Homo sapiens: one gene and its partner. The protein of the gene in region 1 interacts with the protein of each later gene in a pairwise test. Each region holds a gene or a part of one and is shown in the gene's direction. Other genes may lie near its edges.

Region 1 (3,653 bases):
ATGAACCCAGGAGGCGGAGGGTTGCAGTGAGCCAAGATCGCGCCACTGCACTCCAGCCTGGGTGACAGAGTGAGACTCCATCTCAAAAAAAAAAAAAAAAAAAAAAGTATAGTGTGAACATTTAATTACTTAGATATACAACTTAAATTAGAAAAAATGTAGAAAGGGGATAGAAATCATATAGTAGAGAAGACTCAATGAAGCTAAAACTTGGATCTTGCAAAAGACTAAAATAAAAATAGTCAAGTCTCTGGTAAAGGTTCTCAGGAACAAAAGAGGGCACAAATAAGACAATATTAAGGATGAAGAAAGTACACAGTCACAGATAACTGATTTAAAAGAACGTGAACAGGCCAGGCGCAGTGGCTCATGCCTGTAATCCCAGCACTTTGGGAGGCCGAGGCAGGCAGTTCACCTGAGGTCAGGAGTTCGAGATCAGCCTGGCCAACATGGTGAAACCCCGTCTCTACTAAAAATACAAAAATTAGCCGTATTAGGCGTGGTGGCAGGCACCTGTAGTCCCAGCTACTCAGGAGGGTGAGGCAGGAGAATCATTTGAATCTGGGTGGCATAGGTTGCAGTGAGTCAAGATGGTGCCATTGCACTCCAGCCTGGGCAACAAAAGTGAAACTCTGTCTCAAAAAAAAAAAAAAAAAAAGAAGAAAAATATTTAAAAATACAGAAACAAACATTTTTCACAGAAGGGGAAACATATAGCTAATAACAACATGAAATCTAACCTCATTAGTAATCTGGGATATGCAAATAATCATCTCTGTGAAATACTTTATGACACCCAGTAGATTGTCAAAAGTATTGGTCAAGATATTTGTCAGTGGCAGTACTATGGAAGACAACTTTGGCACTAGCTGGTCAAGTTAACATTTATTTACCTACAACTGAGTAATTCACTGCTTAGAACAGCAGTTCTTGGCTGGACGTGGTTGCTCATGCCTATAGTCCCAGCACTTTGGGAGGCCAAGGCAGGTGGATCACCTGAGGTCAGGAGTTTGAGACCAGCCTGGCCAACATGGTGAGACCCCGTCTCTACTAAAAATATAAAAATTAACCAGTTGTGGTGGTGTGCGCCTGTAATCCCAGCTACTCGGAAGGCTGAGGCAGGAGAATCACGTGAGCCCAGGAGGCAGAGGTTGCAGTGAGTCGATACCGTGCCACTGCACTCCAGCCTGGGTGACAGAGTGAGACCCTGTCTCAAAAAAAAAAAACAGCATTTCTCAAAGTATGGTCTGCAGACCCCTGGGATTACGGGTGGGAGCCACTGTGCCTGATGTGTTCCTGTTTTATTAAAGATTAAATTCTGAAGCAATAAAAGTTACAGGAGCTTGTCCAAGGTTGCACAGCTAACAAGTAGAAGGGTCAGGATGTGAACCCAGACAATCTGTCTCTAGGGCCCACACTTTTAACTACTAAGCTTATACCAATTGCTTTAATACCACCTGTTTAGCAAGCTTATTGTAATTAAAAGATACTGGGGCTGGGGGGTGGGTAGAGATGTCAGGTGCTATTGAGAGCTCCCAGAGAGCTGTATTCCCCCCAGAGTAGGGGAGGGTGAAGGGTGGGTAGGGATAGAAGTCTAGTGAAAAGGAAATGCTGTCCTCTCAAGAGTTTTTGGCAGTGTGTATCTTTTCTTCTAGAGACCATGGCGAGCCCAGGGAAAGACAATTATCGAATGAAGAGCTATAAGAACAATGCTCTAAACCCTGAAGAAATGAGACGAAGAAGAGAGGAAGAGGGCATTCAGCTCCGGAAGCAGAAGCGAGAGCAACAAGTGAGTTAATGGGAGTATTCTCAAACATACTATTCTGGGAAACAAGCCCCTATGGTTGGCCTCCACCATGCACCCTGACTTGCCCTGTAGAAAAGTAGCTTACTAGGTGGGCATGGTGGCTCATGTCTGTAATCCCAGCACTTTGGGAGGCCAAGGCAGGCAGATCACCTGAGGTCAGGAGTTCAAGACCAGCCTGGCCAACATGGTGAAACTTCATTTTCTCTACTAAAAATACAGAAATTAGCCGGACGTGGTGGCATGCGCCTGCAATCTCAGCTACTTGGGAGGCTGAAGCAGGAGAATTGCTTGAACCTGGGAGGCGGAGGTTGCAGGAGCTGAGTTCGTGCCATTGCACTCCAGCCTGGGCAACAAGAGTGAAACTCCATCTCAAAAAAAAAAAAAAAAAAAAAAAGAAAAGTAGCTTACTTACTGAGTGAGCTACTCATCCAGTTTCCTTTGTTGTAAATAAATGTTGGGAGCTTTGAGAAAGAGAAAACTGACCTTATCCCCTTTTCACAAGTTAGACCAACTTAGACATCATTTATGTCTTTACTGTAACATTCTAGTTCTAGTTCCTTGTTACCTTTTCTTTTCTTTTTTTTTTCTTTTTTTTTTTTTGAGACGGAGTCTGATTCTGTCACCCAGGCTGGAGTGCAATGGCACGATCTCTGCTCACTGCAACCTCTGCCTCCTGGGTTCAAGCAATTCTCCTGCCTTAGCCTCCCGAGTAGCTAGGATTACGGGCATGTACCACCACGTCCAATTAACTTTGTATATTTTTGGTAGAGACTGGGTTTCACCATGTTGGCCAGACTGGTCTCGAACTCCTGACCTTGTGATCTGCCCAGATCTGCCCGCCTCAGCCTCCCATAGTGCTGGGATTACAGGCGTAAGCCACCACGCCCAGCCTGAGACTATAATAATGCCTCACCATCTGCACTCCTACGCCACCCCGCCAACAGATTCAGTCACCTGATTATTATTATTTATTTATTTATTTATTTATTTATTTATTTATTTATTGAGACAAGGTCTCACTCTGTCACCCAGGCTGGAGTGCAGTGAGTGCAGTGAGTGACATGATCTCAGCTCACTGCAGCCTCAAGCTCCCGGGCTCAAGTGATCCTTCTTCCTCAGCCTCCTGCATAGCTGGACTATAGGCATGTACCACCACGCCCGGCTAATTTTTGTGGATTTTTTTTTTTTTTTTTTTTTTGTACAGACAGGGTTTTGCCATGTTGCCCAGGCTGGTCTTGAACTCCTGAGCTGAAGTGATCCACCTGCCCTGGCCTCCCAGAGTGCTGGGATTGCAGGCATGCGCCACTGTGCCTGGCCAACCTAACCTGATTTTGCCCACCCTTTTGCTATACTATCATTCCTTTTTTTCTTTTTTTTTTTTAAGACAGGATCTTGCCCTGTTGCCCAGGTTGGAGTACAGTGGCGTGATCTTGGCCCACTGCTGCCTCTGCCTCCAAGTCCTTGAATATCTTTTCCATGTTAGTAATCAATAGTCTCCTCTTCTCTTTGTGGAATACATTCCAGGACCCACAGTGGATGCCTGAAACTGCAGATATTACTGAACCTTACATATACTATGTTTTTTTTCATGTTTTCATCTTTTTACTTAAAGGAAGCACTTTACAGCTTCTCTTTGGCACATTTGAATTGCCAGCATCACTACTCTTGCACTTTGTGGCTATTACTAAGTAAAATAAGGGTTACTTGAACACAAGCAATTGCCACCTGATAACCAAGTTGGTTATTAAGTGACTAACTGGCAGCAGCGTATACAGCATGGAATGGATGCACTGGACAAAGGATGTTCACATCCTGGGCCAGACAGAACAAGATAGCGTGAAACTTC
Region 2 (3,753 bases), on another chromosome or scaffold:
TTCACAATGTGCTTTGCAATTGTTCCTTAGCAATAGCCCTCACAAGATTCTCAGGAGGAGAGGGTTAATCAGGATTAACATTTCTGTGTTGCCTAAAGAGGAACCAAGGTAAGCAGAAATGTAGCCAGTTGGCTGGCATCACTGTTGCTTCAGGATTCATCCTTAGACACCCAAGCTTCTACCCTAGTCTGGTGCTACACTTACATTGCTTACATCCAAGTGTGGTTATTTCTGTGGCTCCTGTTATAACTATTATAGCACCAGGTCTATGACCAGGAGAATTAGACTGGCATTAAATCAGAATAAGAGATTTTGCACCTGCAATAGACCTTATGACACCTAACCAACCCCATTATTTACAATTAAACAGGAACAGAGGGAATACTTTATCCAACTCACACAAGCTGCTTTCCTCCCAGATCCATGCTTTTTTGCGTTTATTATTTTTTAGAGATGGGGGCTTCACTATGTTGCCCACACTGGACTAAAACTCTGGGCCTCAAGTGATTGTCCTGCCTCAGCCTCCTGAATAGCTGGGACTACAGGGGCATGCCATCACACCTAGTTCATTTCCTCTATTTAAAATATACATGGCTTAAACTCCAACTGGGAACCCAAAACATTCATTTGCTAAGAGTCTGGTGTTCTACCACCTGAACTAGGCTGGCCACAGGAATTATAAAAGCTGAGAAATTCTTTAATAATAGTAACCAGGCAACACCATTGAAGGCTCATATGTAAAAATCCATGCCTTCCTTTCTCCCAATCTCCATTCCCAAACTTAGCCACTGGCTTCTGGCTGAGGCCTTACGCATACCTCCCGGGGCTTGCACACACCTTCTTCTACAGAAGACACACCTTGGGCATATCCTACAGAAGACCAGGCTTCTCTCTGGTCCTTGGTAGAGGGCTACTTTACTGTAACAGGGCCAGGGTGGAGAGTTCTCTCCTGAAGCTCCATCCCCTCTATAGGAAATGTGTTGACAATATTCAGAAGAGTAAGAGGATCAAGACTTCTTTGTGCTCAAATACCACTGTTCTCTTCTCTACCCTGCCCTAACCAGGAGCTTGTCACCCCAAACTCTGAGGTGATTTATGCCTTAATCAAGCAAACTTCCCTCTTCAGAAAAGATGGCTCATTTTCCCTCAAAAGTTGCCAGGAGCTGCCAAGTATTCTGCCAATTCACCCTGGAGCACAATCAACAAATTCAGCCAGAACACAACTACAGCTACTATTAGAACTATTATTATTAATAAATTCCTCTCCAAATCTAGCCCCTTGACTTCGGATTTCACGATTTCTCCCTTCCTCCTAGAAACTTGATAAGTTTCCCGCGCTTCCCTTTTTCTAAGACTACATGTTTGTCATCTTATAAAGCAAAGGGGTGAATAAATGAACCAAATCAATAACTTCTGGAATATCTGCAAACAACAATAATATCAGCTATGCCATCTTTCACTATTTTAGCCAGTATCGAGTTGAATGAACATAGAAAAATACAAAACTGAATTCTTCCCTGTAAATTCCCCGTTTTGACGACGCACTTGTAGCCACGTAGCCACGCCTACTTAAGACAATTACAAAAGGCGAAGAAGACTGACTCAGGCTTAAGCTGCCAGCCAGAGAGGGAGTCATTTCATTGGCGTTTGAGTCAGCAAAGGTATTGTCCTCACATCTCTGGCTATTAAAGTATTTTCTGTTGTTGTTTTTCTCTTTGGCTGTTTTCTCTCACATTGCCTTCTCTAAAGCTACAGCCTCTCCTTTCTTTTCTTGTCCCTCCCTGGTTTGGTATGTGACCTAGAATTACAGTCAGATTTCAGAAAATGATTCTCTCATTTTGCTGATAAGGACTGATTCGTTATACTGAGGGACAGCAGAACTAGTTTCCTATGAGGGCATGGGTGAATACAACTGAGGCTTCTCATGGGAGGGAATCTCTACTATCCAAAATTATTAGGAGAAAATTGAAAATTTCCAACTCTGTCTCTCTCTTACCTCTGTGTAAGGCAAATACCTTATTCTTGTGGTGTTTTTGTAACCTCTTCAAACTTTCATTGATTGAATGCCTGTTCTGGCAATACATTAGGTTGGGCACATAAGGAATACCAACATAAATAAAACATTCTAAAAGAAGTTTACGATCTAATAAAGGAGACAGGTACATAGCAAACTAATTCAAAGGAGCTAGAAGATGGAGAAAATGCTGAATGTGGACTAAGTCATTCAACAAAGTTTTCAGGAAGCACAAAGAGGAGGGGCTCCCCTCACAGATATCTGGATTAGAGGCTGGCTGAGCTGATGGTGGCTGGTGTTCTCTGTTGCAGAAGTCAAGATGGCCAAAGTTCCAGACATGTTTGAAGACCTGAAGAACTGTTACAGGTAAGGAATAAGATTTATCTCTTGTGATTTAATGAGGGTTTCAAGGCTCACCAGAATCCAGCTAGGCATAACAGTGGCCAGCATGGGGGCAGGCCGGCAGAGGTTGTAGAGATGTGTACTAGTCCTGAAGTCAGAGCAGGTTCAGAGAAGACCCAGAAAAACTAAGCATTCAGCATGTTAAACTGAGATTACATTGGCAGGGAGACCGCCATTTTAGAAAAATTATTTTTGAGGTCTGCTGAGCCCTACATGAATATCAGCATCAACTTAGACACAGCCTCTGTTGAGATCACATGCCCTGATATAAGAATGGGTTTTACTGGTCCATTCTCAGGAAAACTTGATCTCATTCAGGAACAGGAAATGGCTCCACAGCAAGCTGGGCATGTGAACTCACATATGCAGGCAAATCTCACTCAGATGTAGAAGAAAGGTAAATGAACACAAAGATAAAATTACGGAACATATTAAACTAACATGATGTTTCCATTATCTGTAGTAAATACTAACACAAACTAGGCTGTCAAAATTTTGCCTGGATATTTTACTAAGTATAAATTATGAAATCTGTTTTAGTGAATACATGAAAGTAATGTGTAACATATAATCTATTTGGTTAAAATAAAAAGGAAGTGCTTCAAAACCTTTCTTTTCTCTAAAGGAGCTTAACATTCTTCCCTGAACTTCAATTAAAGCTCTTCAATTTGTTAGCCAAGTCCAATTTTTACAGATAAAGCACAGGTAAAGCTCAAAGCCTGTCTTGATGACTACTAATTCCAGATTAGTAAGATATGAATTACTCTACCTATGTGTATGTGTAGAAGTCCTTAAATTTCAAAGATGACAGTAATGGCCATGTGTATGTGTGTGACCCACAACTATCATGGTCATTAAAGTACATTGGCCAGAGACCACACTGAAATAACAACAATTACATTCTCATCATCTTATTTTGACAGTGAAAATGAAGAAGACAGTTCCTCCATTGATCATCTGTCTCTGAATCAGGTAAGCAAATGACTGTAATTCTCATGGGACTGCTATTCTTACACAGTGGTTTCTTCATCCAAAGAGAACAGCAATGACTTGAATCTTCAATACTTTTGTTTTACCCTCACTAGAGGTCCAGAGACCTGTCTTTCATTATAAGTGAGACCAGCTGCCTCTCTAAACTAATAGTTGATGTGCATTGGCTTCTCCCAGAACAGAGCAGAACCATCCCAAATCCCTGAGAACTGGAGTCTCCTGGGGCAGGCTTCATCAGGATGTTAGTTATGCCATCCTGAGAAAGGCCCCGCAGGCCGCTTCACCAGGTGTCTGTCTCCTAACGTGATGTGTTGTGGTTGTCTTCTCTGACACCAGCATCAGAGGTT

Evidence for each region.
Region 2: the proteins of KPNA6 (region 1) and IL1A interact in binary tests that used the Homo sapiens proteins (3 or more experiments, as listed by UniProt).

What each region holds. Positions count from the first base shown.
Region 1 is NC_000001.11:32,152,933-32,156,585, forward strand, and holds part of KPNA6 (importin subunit alpha-7), read left to right. Parts: intron 1-1,655; coding exon 1,656-1,789; intron 1,790-3,653. UniProt on the Homo sapiens protein: Functions in nuclear protein import as an adapter protein for nuclear receptor KPNB1. Binds specifically and directly to substrates containing either a simple or bipartite NLS motif.
Region 2 is NC_000002.12:112,782,351-112,786,103, reverse strand, and holds the start of IL1A (interleukin-1 alpha precursor), read left to right. Parts: upstream 1-1,610; 5' UTR 1,611-1,661; intron 1,662-1,703; exon of another isoform or gene 1,704-1,789; intron 1,790-2,325; 5' UTR 2,326-2,333; coding exon 2,334-2,380; intron 2,381-3,339; coding exon 3,340-3,388; intron 3,389-3,753. UniProt on the Homo sapiens protein: Cytokine constitutively present intracellularly in nearly all resting non-hematopoietic cells that plays an important role in inflammation and bridges the innate and adaptive immune systems.